Regions from separate parts of the Homo sapiens genome. Here region 2 is linked to region 1. The links come from fine-mapping of genetic effects on gene expression. Tissue or cell type: whole blood. Region 1 holds a variant in brackets; the other region holds the start of a gene. All regions are shown on one strand. Distances are between the middles of the regions.

Region 1 (5,359 bases):
CAGGCCTGGCCCCCCTCGCATCCGCCAAGGCTATCGACCCCGAAACGACGCGGTGCGCAAGTGGCCACGACACCTAGGCACTAAGTCATTTTCCCGAGGTAGCGGTACCCTCTGCTCCAACGAAGCCAATCTCCAGAAAACCTAACAGACTCAAGGTAAGGAGGCTGGGGAAACCCTTCGCTAGCCTTTCGGTGGCCCTAGGCGGCCGACCAGTCCCGCCTCTCTGGGAGACCCCTCTGCGTCACCGTGACGACCCATTCCCACGCAGGTGTCCCTCTTCTCAAGGCGGCCGCCCACCGTCCCCACGCAGCCTCCTTCCTCACCCGCGGCCGCCGCGCCACAGCCTGCTGCACGCGCTCGTTCACCGCCCGCAATGCGCACCCGACTCCCAGCTCGGCCGACATGCTGCCAGCTCTCCACATCCCCCGGGGACCGACGCCGAGCCCCAGGCCCCCGGCAGCCCGTGGCTCACACCATCTTCCGGTTCCGCCCAGCTTGCGCCGTGTGAACCAATCATTGCTCATCATTGAGTCGTCTCACCCAATCAACACCCGTGCAGCGTGGAGGCCCGCCCCCAGGCGGCGGCCATCTTGGGGAGGTCACCCGCGAACCTGGAAATGGAGCCTAGGGGCTGAGGTTTTGCGCGCCTGGTTCCAAGGGCCACTCCCCGTGTGCTCTCCTCTTTCCTGCGCCTCAGCCGCTGCCGTCCCCCCACCCCCAAGGGACTTTTGTGAGGCAGAAACGCATCCTATACTCGGGGGATCCTGTTTCCTTTCAAAACGCCTTTCCAGGCTTGCCCGTTCCCGGCTTTCTGGGCGCGGGGACCAGAATTAGAAGCCACTGGGGCGGGAGCCAGGGCTTTTCTCTGTCAGATGGTTCTTGCGAGGAACCCCTAAGCGATACGAAAGGAAACTCTTCTTTCTTCTTTTCCCTAAAGACATGGCGTGATTCAAACGTATCGTGATTTTTGTCATCTTTCAGACCACTGCTGTCCAAGAGAAATATAACGCCATCCAACTGTGTAATTTGGAAGTTTCTCATAGGCACATAAGCTTAAAAATTTTAATGATATACTTTATTTAATCCAATATATCCAAAGTAAGATTTCAACATGCAATCAATAGAAAAACTAAATGCGATATTTTAATTCTTTTGAAAATCGTATGTGTTTCTGAAACCCGGTGTAGTGTTGACTTGCATATGTCTCAATTCGGGCCATCCCTATTTCGAGAGGTTAGCGGCCACCTGCGGCCAGTGCTGTCTCATCAGGGGACACAGGCAGCATGATTATTACTATTATTATTATTGAGACAGTCTCGCTCTGTCACCCAGGCTGGAGTGCGGTGGCCCGATCTGGGCTCACTGCAACCTCCACCTCCCGGGTTCAAGCGATTCTCCTGCCTCAGCCTCCCCAGTAGCTGGGACTACAGGTGCGAGCCACCGCGCCCAGCCCACAGGCAGCTTTAGATGGTCTAGCAGGAGCTCAGCACATTCAGTTAGATTCTTTTTTTGAGATGGGGTCTCGCTATGTTGCCCAGATTATCTGGGACTCGTGGGCCCAAGCAATCCTCCCACCTCCGCCTCACAGAATAGCTGGGACTACAAACGGGCACCACAACGCCCTGAGTTTGATTCTTGAGTCCCCTTCTGTGGGCAATATGGTTATAAACTTGATGAGGAGCCAGGCCATACAAATAATAATACAGAATGCTACATAGTCAGGTGGTGAAATAGTAGGTGCTACGGGCAAGGAGAAGGAGATCAATTTTGTTAAGGAAAGCACTCTTGGCTGCAATTTCTGTTGAAAGTTTCTCAAACATTAATTCAACTTAATGAAGTGGGATGCTATTATATTAGAGAAATGGCTAATGTTTGTTCTTCAGGTGGTCTTGTCTTGAGGTGATGGGGTTTATTAGAGCTTTCCGGAAAGAAGGGGCAATATTCTTACTCTCTCCTCTCACAGTTTTTCCCCAGACTCCCAGGAACAGAGATGGAATTTCACATCTTCTGCTCTGGGAAAGTCACATTAGGCAGAACCTCAGATCCTTAAAATAAGGGACTTCTTTTTGGGAAGTCTCTGGTCATTTACCCTGGTACACATTAACTGGGTTATCTGCAAACTAGGACTGCCAACATTAGGAGTAATTGTGTTCAGATAAAATGTCTCTAGACTTGATACATCTGTACTCCAACCAAAATGATAAAAAAATTTAAAATGACCAGAATGGCCCTTTGTGGTGTGAGCATAATAGATGCTTGCTGTAGAGACACAGGTGGGAAGGAGCGAGCCAGCAGTGAGTGATGGGGAGGACAGAGGGGATCATGGTGATGGGATGTGTAGAGGAAGGATTGGGTGAGATGAAACACTTCAAATAATGTGCTATTTGGAAAACATTTTAAAACCATAAATACCTCACAGATCTAGGGAATGTATAATCCAGGTGTTACGTCACTATGACAACAAGTAGTTGTAGCTTCATTTACTAGATTGGGCCTCTATTCTTTTTTGTGTTTTTTGAGACGAAGTCTTGCTCTGTCACTCAAGCTGGAGTGCAGTGACGCGATCTCGGCTCACTGCAACCTCTGCCTCCTGGGTGCAAGTGATTCTCCTGCCTGAGCCTCCCGAGTAGCTGGGACTACAGGCGTGCATCACCACGCCCGCCTAATTTTTGTATTTTTAGTACAGATGGGGTTTCAC[T/C]ATGTTAGCCAGGTTGGTCTCGAACTCCTGACCTTGTGATCCACCCGCCTCGGCCTCCCAAAGTGCTGGGATTACAGTCGTGGGCCACCGTGCCCAGCCAGGGACCTCTATTCTTTGAACTACAAGGCAAGGTCATCCTCCCACCCCCTTATCCATTCAGTGAACATTTACTGAGGCGTTACTCTGTAAAGAACCCTGAGAGAGACCAGGCTGAGTAAGACAGGCTTTACTGCCGATTTACTTCCAATATGCTCGCTTTTCATCTCTGACATTCTGTGGTCTTATGAAAATGGAAATGGAGACAAAAAGATCATGGTGCCCCCAGTCCCATGGTCATTTCACATTCCAATTTCTTCTTAGTTGTACTTTTGAATTAATTTTATTTCACTTTGTCCCTTTTTTTCCTTATTTGCTTTTTTAATTTCTTCTCTTCCTCTTCCTGGGACATCAACCATCCAATTTAACCTTTCATCCTCCCCTACTACCTAATCCTTGAAAAATACAAGTCCAAAATCATTTCATCACCAGTAATTGTCTTTAAATTGCTCCAATAATTTGCAAGGACCAAGGGGAAAAGAGAAAGATTAAAAAGCCAAATGCCCAGAGAAACAGATTTTATAAATAATCTAAAATCTAGTATACTTATTCACCATCAATGCCATCAAGCTTTTAAAACACCCTCATAGTCTGGAATAAATCCAAATTATGAGAAAAACATATATGGATTTAAAAATTGTTTCCTTCTGAGCCTACTGTGAGTCTTTTAGGGGGATAAAAAAGTAAAAAGTAAAATAGAAAATTACTGTTGCCTGGTTACTTAGCTCTAAAGAGAAACGGAGAAATAATGCCCATGTCCCATCCCAGTTTAAATGAATTCAGGTAGAGTAGCCCATGACAGCAAGCCCTTGGCACACATGCCATCACATCTGGCCTTTGAAATGTCTATAGAGATAGTAGAACCCTAGACCTAGGGAAGACTTAGGGAGGTTTCATACAGAAAGAATGACATTTAAACCATCCCAAACAGCACAGAGTCTTCACAATTTCTGAAGACCATCAGAGAAGAATATTTATTTTCTATTTGCAAGTAACTACTCCTCCCCATTTGAAAATTTAGCAAGCCTGATCTTAAGTAAATTCTTTACAAATCCTCCTTTATTCAAGTGAATTTCCTCTTTTTAGCTACCAGTATGTAACTTTTATAATCGTGAAGTCATTAAATGTCCCTTCTGCCTTTTCTGGCATCAACCTATGAGCTTTATTTCTTAATTACTTTTTTTTTCTTTTTGGTTTTAACATTTTCTTTCTAGCTTCTTCAAATTTTTTTCATTTTTAAAATTGGAGACCAGAACTGGACAGTTCCTCTCAACAGGGCCAAATCAGATTCTTTTCTTTTTTTTGGAGATAGAGTTTTGCTCTTGTTGCCCAGGCTGGAGTGCAGTGGCGTGATTTTGGCTCACTGCATCCTCTACCTCCCAGGTTCAAGTGATTCTCCTGCCTTAGCCTCCCAAGTAGCTGGGATTTCAGGCATGCACCACCATGCCCGGTTAATTTTCTATTTTTAGTCGAGATGGGGTTTCTCTATGTTGGTCAGGCTGGTCTTGAACTCCCGACCTCAGGTGATCCACCCACCTCAGCCTCCCAAAGTGCTAGGATTACAGGTGTGAACCACCGTGCCTGGCTTCTTTTCTTTTCTTTTCTTTCTTTAAACCAGGTTATTTTCTACACAACATTTTTGTAGAGGTATGTATCCTCAATACTGTGTTTGCTGCATTGCAATGTCATTCCCTTCTTCTATGTGCTATCCCATTTGTAATCTTATTCCATTTTTTTTCACGTGTTTGGCTTTCTACTTAGTGGCTCCCATTTAATAGCTGTATGTTTTTTAGCCCGTTTCTCCAGATTGAAGTTTTTGAATACATACATGCAAGGTACAGTGTGAAAGCCCTTCGTATGCATTATTTCATATAAGCCATGCAACTCATTTTATTAATGAAGAAACTGAGGCTTAGAGAGGTCAAAAAACTTATTCAAGACCACACACCTAAGAAGTAGTAGAGCAGTGATTTGAACTTTGGCAGTCTAACTGCAGTAACTACACTCTTAACATAACTATTCAATTGTTAAGATCATATTATTTGTGTAGCAGGCTCTCAAACCAATAGAAAAAGCTTGGGATCCCTGTTAAAAAAAACCTGAGAAAGCCTGGGCTAGGGTTGCCGGACTTAACAAGTAAAAATACAGGATACCCAGTTAAATATGAATTACACATAAGCAACAAATACTTTGGTATGAGTATGTCTCATGCAGTGTTTAGGACACATAGTACTTAGACTAAAAATTGTACATTGTTGAAATTCATATTTAACTAGGTATCTTATGTTTTATCTGGCAACCCTAAGCTGGGCAGCTTTCCAGAGTAAAGACTGGGAGTTCGTCCACTGAACTGATATCAAAATGAATTTTGGTTCACTTGAAAATATCTTTGTCCTTTGGAGCAGAATTGCAGTGGTGTGTGAACTGTTTAAAATGATAAATCTCTATAGCACCTACCAAGAATTATGCCACGTTCACAAATTCTGTATCGATAATGGGGATAGATTTTCATCTGTTTATTTTTAGAGAGATCTTGTACTTAACTCACTAGTCTGGGATGTTTTA
Region 2 (5,326 bases), 36 kb before region 1:
TCCTGACCTCGTGATCCACCCGCCTCTGCCTCTCAAAGTGCTGGGATTACAGGCCTGAGCCACCGCACCCGGCCTCAGCTCTGAATTCTTATGCAGCTGGGACTCACGCAGACGCTACCGACTGTTCCGCAGAGCAAGCATTTTTCTCCTCCAGAACTAAGTGAGCTGGGGAATGCCCAGGCCTGCCTGGACCCTCAAACCCCAGCGGACAGTCAGAGAGAGCTGCCCTGAACAGCCACAGGTGCCTTCCCTGGCCACAGCCTTACCCTGAGCAGCAGGGAGGCGGCAGCGAGCAGACACACCGCCTCCACCCTTAAGGCACACACATGCACACACACACCCGGGCCGGGGAAAATGCAGGCCGGGCGGCCAGCGTCAGAGGCTGACCAGTTGTGTCCTGTCAGGAAGCGGGCAGCCTCTGAACTCACCCAACCAGAGGCGTTACTGTATTGTTCTGGACACAATCGAAAAGACTGGGCCAGCCCCGACTGCGGGCAAGGGGCGGTGGAGAAACGGTTGCCACTGGGGTCAGGAGGACAGGGAAAGGGAAGCGGCTCTTAGGCTGGATTTGGGACAGGAAAGGAAGCGGCGGCCGCGGGGGCCCGACCCTCAAATCCACGGCGTGCGTGGAGCTGCGAGCACGTGGTCGGCGCAGGAAATCTCTGCGGTGGGGAGGGGTCGCCAATGCTCGCGCGGCTGCTGGGACTTGCGACCCCCTTGTAGGAGGCTTGGGGTCGGGCTGCGGCGCTGCAGCGCTCGCTGCCAGCAAAGCAAAGGCGTACTGAGGCCCTGACTAAGAGGGAAGTCGCGGAAGGAGGCCCGGGTGGGCTGCGGTGAGGGAACCCCGCTTCCCCAGCCGCGTTTCTTTCTTCGCAATCTTTGCGCGAAGTCAATGGAGAAACAGCCAAAGCTCGAGTTACTTCCAGGAGAGGCAAAGGAGAGGCAAGGACGCGGGACCCAGCACAGAGCTCACTGCACAAACGGCGCCGTGGGAGAGGGGCCTCTAGAGGGATGGGGACGCCAGGGTCTCCTGCAGCCCAGGAGCGCCGGTATTCCAAGGGCCGACTTTTCTGAGCCCAGCCTCCCCTTGCCCTAAGGAGACCGGCTGGAAGCGGCGCTGGCAGGCCAGGGGGCAAGGATGGGATGACCCCAATTGAAGGGACAAGGCCAGCCAGGTAAATCCGGAGACTCCTCCAGCCCAGTCCGGGACGCGACCGTAGTGGTTAGGACCACAGCCCCCTCCTGGGCCACGAGCGTCGATCTTTCCTGAGCATTCCCCGCTCTCACCCTTCTCAGGTCCCCAAAGTCCGCAACCCTAGTCCAGGCTGGAAATCCGGGGCGTGGGTGCCCTGCAGGCGTGCTCTCCACTTCACCTGTGCAGGTGAGTGGGCGCCTGCGGTGCCTTTCTCTGGGGTGCGCCTGTCCCCCGCAGCCCCTTCCCGCCTCCACGCTCCTGGAGCCCCAGTCTCTCCCCTGCTCCTCCAATCTTCCCCTCTGGGGGCCTGAACCCAGGCCTGTCCAGAAATCTCTGAAGTGGGGGGATAGCCCCCTTCCCCCTGCTCCCACCCCTCCCGTCTCGCCTCCCTTCGTCCCCAGTCCCGGCTCGGACGGAACTGGCCTGGTAGGGTACTCACAGGGTAACGGTGCCGTTAGGCAGAAGGCCGGGCTCGGGAGGCTCCGGGAGGTCCCCGCCGCTGCACACCACCCTCCGCCGAGCCGGGCCAGGGACGCCGCCGCTCAGCCCCTTGGGCCGCTCCCCCGAGCACTTGCAGCTGCGGATGGATAGCGGGCAGCCGGGCGCGCCCCGAGCCTCGGGCGCCAGGAGCAGCAGGAGCCACGGCAGCAGCGGCAGCAGCAGGCGCGCGGGCGCCCCCCGCATCCTGCGTCCCCCGGCGCCCATCAACCCATCGCCCCGCGGGGACCCACAGCGCTGGGGCCGGGCTGCGCGCCGGCCGGAGGGACCCAGGCGTGCGGGAGGAGTGCTCAGCGGGGGCCCGGGGCTCCCGAGGGCGTGGAGGGGGGCCCTGGGCGGAGGCGAGCCCCGGGGTCCCCGCCGCCGCGCCCCGGGGGCATGTCCTGCGAGCGCCCCGGCGGGGAGGACGTCGGCGCGGCTGTCAGCGCAGCGCGGGCAGCTCCCAGCTGCGCGGCCGGAGTCTCAGCGCCCGGCCCTCGGGACACTGGAGGCCCGGCCCCTCCGCGTCGCCTGCTCGCTGGGCGCTGGGCTGGGACCTAGCGGATCGCGCCGGGCTCCTGCTGCCGCCGCCGCCGCCGCTCCGTGCCATGGATGGAGGCAGCTCCGCGCCGCGCCGCTCCCGCCGCCGGTCCCCGCCCGCCCGGGCCTTCCGCGGGGCCCTAGCGCCGACCGACACGCGGCCAGGCCTAGACCCTCTGCCGAGTGGGGGCGGGCCAGCTGGTTCGAGGACCCTGCGTCCCCGCGCCCGCCCTGCACCAACACTCCTCTCCCGCTTGTCCCCGCGCCCCGGGCCAGGACCCTTCCTTTCCGCAACCCATCTCAGACCTCTGAGCCGACCACCACCACCTTCCACAAAATTTCCCTCGTCCGTGCCGGTGCAGCTTGCGTCTCCAGGCTGCTGGGGCCCTCCTGGACCCGCGGGCTTGGACAGAGACGTCTGGGGCGCCCTGTTTTGGGTTGAACTTGGTGGAAGGCTCCGAGGTTTCCTTTGGCCCCTGACACGATGATCAGTCTGGAAGTCGGCTCTCACTCTCCTTCCAGCTCCGGTGGAGGCAGCCGCAGGAGGATGGCAGCCGAGACAAGGAGGCAGCAGACCCTCCTCCGCTGCGGTGACCTCGCTCAGCGGGGGGTGCATGTCATTCGGCCAAGGAGAGGTCAAAGGCCAAGGCAGACAAGGCTAGAGGCTAGACTGGGCCTCCTACATTTTCCACAACGCTGTGTGTGTGTGTGTGTGTGTGTGTGTGTGTGTTTCGGGGACAGTGAGTGGGACAAGGGAAAAGTAGATGAGAAGGAGCAGGGCTTTGCAGCAGGGTGTGGAAAGAGCACTGCGCAGTGAGTCTGGAGACCCCTATTCCAGACTCGGCTCTGCCTCTCATTACTGTCTGACCTTGGACACAGCCCCTAGCTTGCTGGGGTAGCAGATCTCTGGGGTTGAAATGGGGCTCTGCCTGCTCCCCAGTTTATAGAGTGGCATTAGATGCCCAGTAAATCGTGGCATTAGAATAAGAGAGTGTGGTGGGGGGGAGGGGCACATGGTTTCCAAAGGCAGAGGACTGGTGGTGGCAGGGGTGACCTTGACAACTAGTGGTGGGTATAAAGCTGCCTGCAGGCCGGGCGCGGTGGCTGACACCTGTAATCCCAGCACTTTTCGAGGCCGAGGCGGGCGGATCACTTGAGGTGAGGAGTTTGAGATCCACCTGGCCAAAATGATGAAACCCTGTCTGTACTAAATATACAAAAATTATCCGGGCGTCGTGGTGGGCGCCTGTAATCCCAGCTACTTGGGAGGCTGAGGCACGAGAATTGCTTGAACCCAGGAGGCGGAGGTTGCAGTGAGCTGAGAGCGTGCCACTGCACTGCAGCCTGGTGACAAAGTGAGACTCCGTCTCAATAAATAAATAAATTAATTAAAAAAAAAACAGCCTGCAGTACACCGGAACCAGGGCTGGGGACAGGCAGTAAGAAGTGCAGCCCAGGGGTCTGCTTCCTCTGTTTCCCCACAGAAGCTCACCTTTCTGTTGCTTAATAGAGCTGCCGGGATGGGGCAGGACTCCCGTTCCCCCTCCTTCACTCTACCACCCAAGCGGTCCCCAAGGTGAATGCCACATTCTTTAGTGAGCTTAGCCCTGCTGATGTGCGGTGGTGCCTTTTCTAGGGCCCCTGTGCCTGTCAGCCAAGTCTACCCTGACTATGCAGGGAATGGCTTTCTTCTCTTGCCCGTTGGCGTTGGCGGCAGGCAGGGGCCTAGATGTTGGCTTCTTCACTTTCCCTCCCTGGCTCCACAGATCTCCCCCAGTTGCAGGCTCTCTGGTTCCTTGAACTTCCAAAGATAAATAAATAGTGATTGCAAATGGAGGAAGGGAGAAGGGGAATGGACTCCCCCAGCAGGAGCCCTCACAGGCGGTGGCCCAGGCTGCATTCCTCAGGAAAGAGCTGACAGCAGAGCCACAGCCCATAGGCAGGGCTGTGCAGCCCTCCTGCTCACAGGCAAGGAAGACTCTGAGATCTCTGGCCTGGGTCATATAGCTTTTCTGTGATTTCCTTTGGCTAAATGAAGACACTCAAAGTCTAAAGAAGAATTCTACTGGAACACCCACTCCTGGAGGCTGAACAGAGGCCAAAGGACATTTAATGAGGCGAGGCTTCCCCACCACTAGGAATGAAATGTCTGATGGAGACATCTACAAAACACTGGACTGTCCTGAGGGTCACCACATTTGACTTCTTACCCACCCAGGGAGGTGATGAAGTGGAGGTTACTTTCTTATTTTGCAAGTATGGATGAAGAAACTGAGTCACTGAGACTAGAGTCCAAGGGTAGGAACTTACTTTCTGATTCCTTTTTTTGTGTATGTGTGAGACAAGGTCTCTCTCTGTCACCCAGGCTGGAGTGCAGTGGCAGGAACACGGCAGCCTCGATCTCCTGGGTTCAATCCTCCCACCTCCGCCTCCCAAGTAGCTGGAACTACAGGTTTGTTATTGCATGCAACTAATTTTTTTTAATGTTTTGTAGAGATGGGGATCTCGCCATGTTGCCCAGGCTGGTCTCAAACTCCTGGACTCCAGCAATCTGCCTGACTTGGCCTCCCAAAGTGCTGGGATTACAGGTGTGAGCCACCATGCCTGGCCATGAGCATGTTTGTCTGTTTGTTTGTTTGTTTGTTTGTGATGGAGTCTAGCTCTGTCACCCATGCTGGAGTGCAGTGGCACAATCTCAGCTCACTGCAACCTCTACCTCCTGGGTTCAAGTGATTCTCCTGTCACAGCCTCCCAAGTAGCTGGGATTACAGGCGCCTGCCACCATGCCTGGCTAATTTTTGTATTTTTAGGAGAGACAGGGTTTCACCATATTGGCCAGGCTGGTCTCAAACTCCTGACCTCAGGTGATCCACTCGCCTTGGCCTCCCAAAGTTCTGGGATTATAGGAGTGAGCCACCGCAACCTGCCATGAGCATGTTTTAATCCTTTTTTCTTCTTATTTCTAGTATACCGTGCCCGGCCATGGTTCCTTTTTAAGTGCTTTCTTCTCTGAGCCACAGGGAGACTTTCCCCTGGGAAGCTTCCTGCAGACCTCTCCTCAGAGGTGCAGTGAGGAGTGAATGAATTGCCCACATCAAAATCTTTTTGTTTTGA

What was found. PIP is the estimated chance that this variant, and not a neighbour inherited with it, causes the effect.
Region 2: it holds the start of ADGRA2, and the variant in region 1 is fine-mapped to the expression of ADGRA2 in whole blood (TOPMed, PIP above 0.99).

What each region holds. Positions count from the first base shown.
Region 1 is chr8:37,757,723-37,763,081 of GRCh38, reverse strand. It overlaps ERLIN2 (ER lipid raft associated 2), which reads right to left. Exons shown (of 12, transcript NM_007175.8): 12 at 4,660-5,359. PLPBP (pyridoxal phosphate binding protein) reads right to left here and starts at 437. Exons shown (of 8, transcript NM_007198.4): 1 at 324-437. The coding sequence starts at 422. It overlaps LOC124901934 (a long non-coding RNA gene), which reads left to right. Exons shown (of 2, transcript XR_007060889.1): 1 at 1-155; 2 at 269-5,359. RefSeq lists enhancers at 9-68, 377-671, 249-708, 809-888 and a silencer at 429-749. The variant T/C (reference allele first, on the strand shown) is at 2,699.
Region 2 is chr8:37,793,843-37,799,168 of GRCh38, reverse strand. It overlaps ADGRA2 (adhesion G protein-coupled receptor A2), which reads right to left and starts at 2,286. Exons shown (of 19, transcript NM_032777.10): 1 at 1,635-2,286. The coding sequence starts at 1,900. RefSeq lists silencers at 1,672-1,761, 2,042-2,211, 2,222-2,461 and enhancers at 2,725-3,290, 3,291-3,856.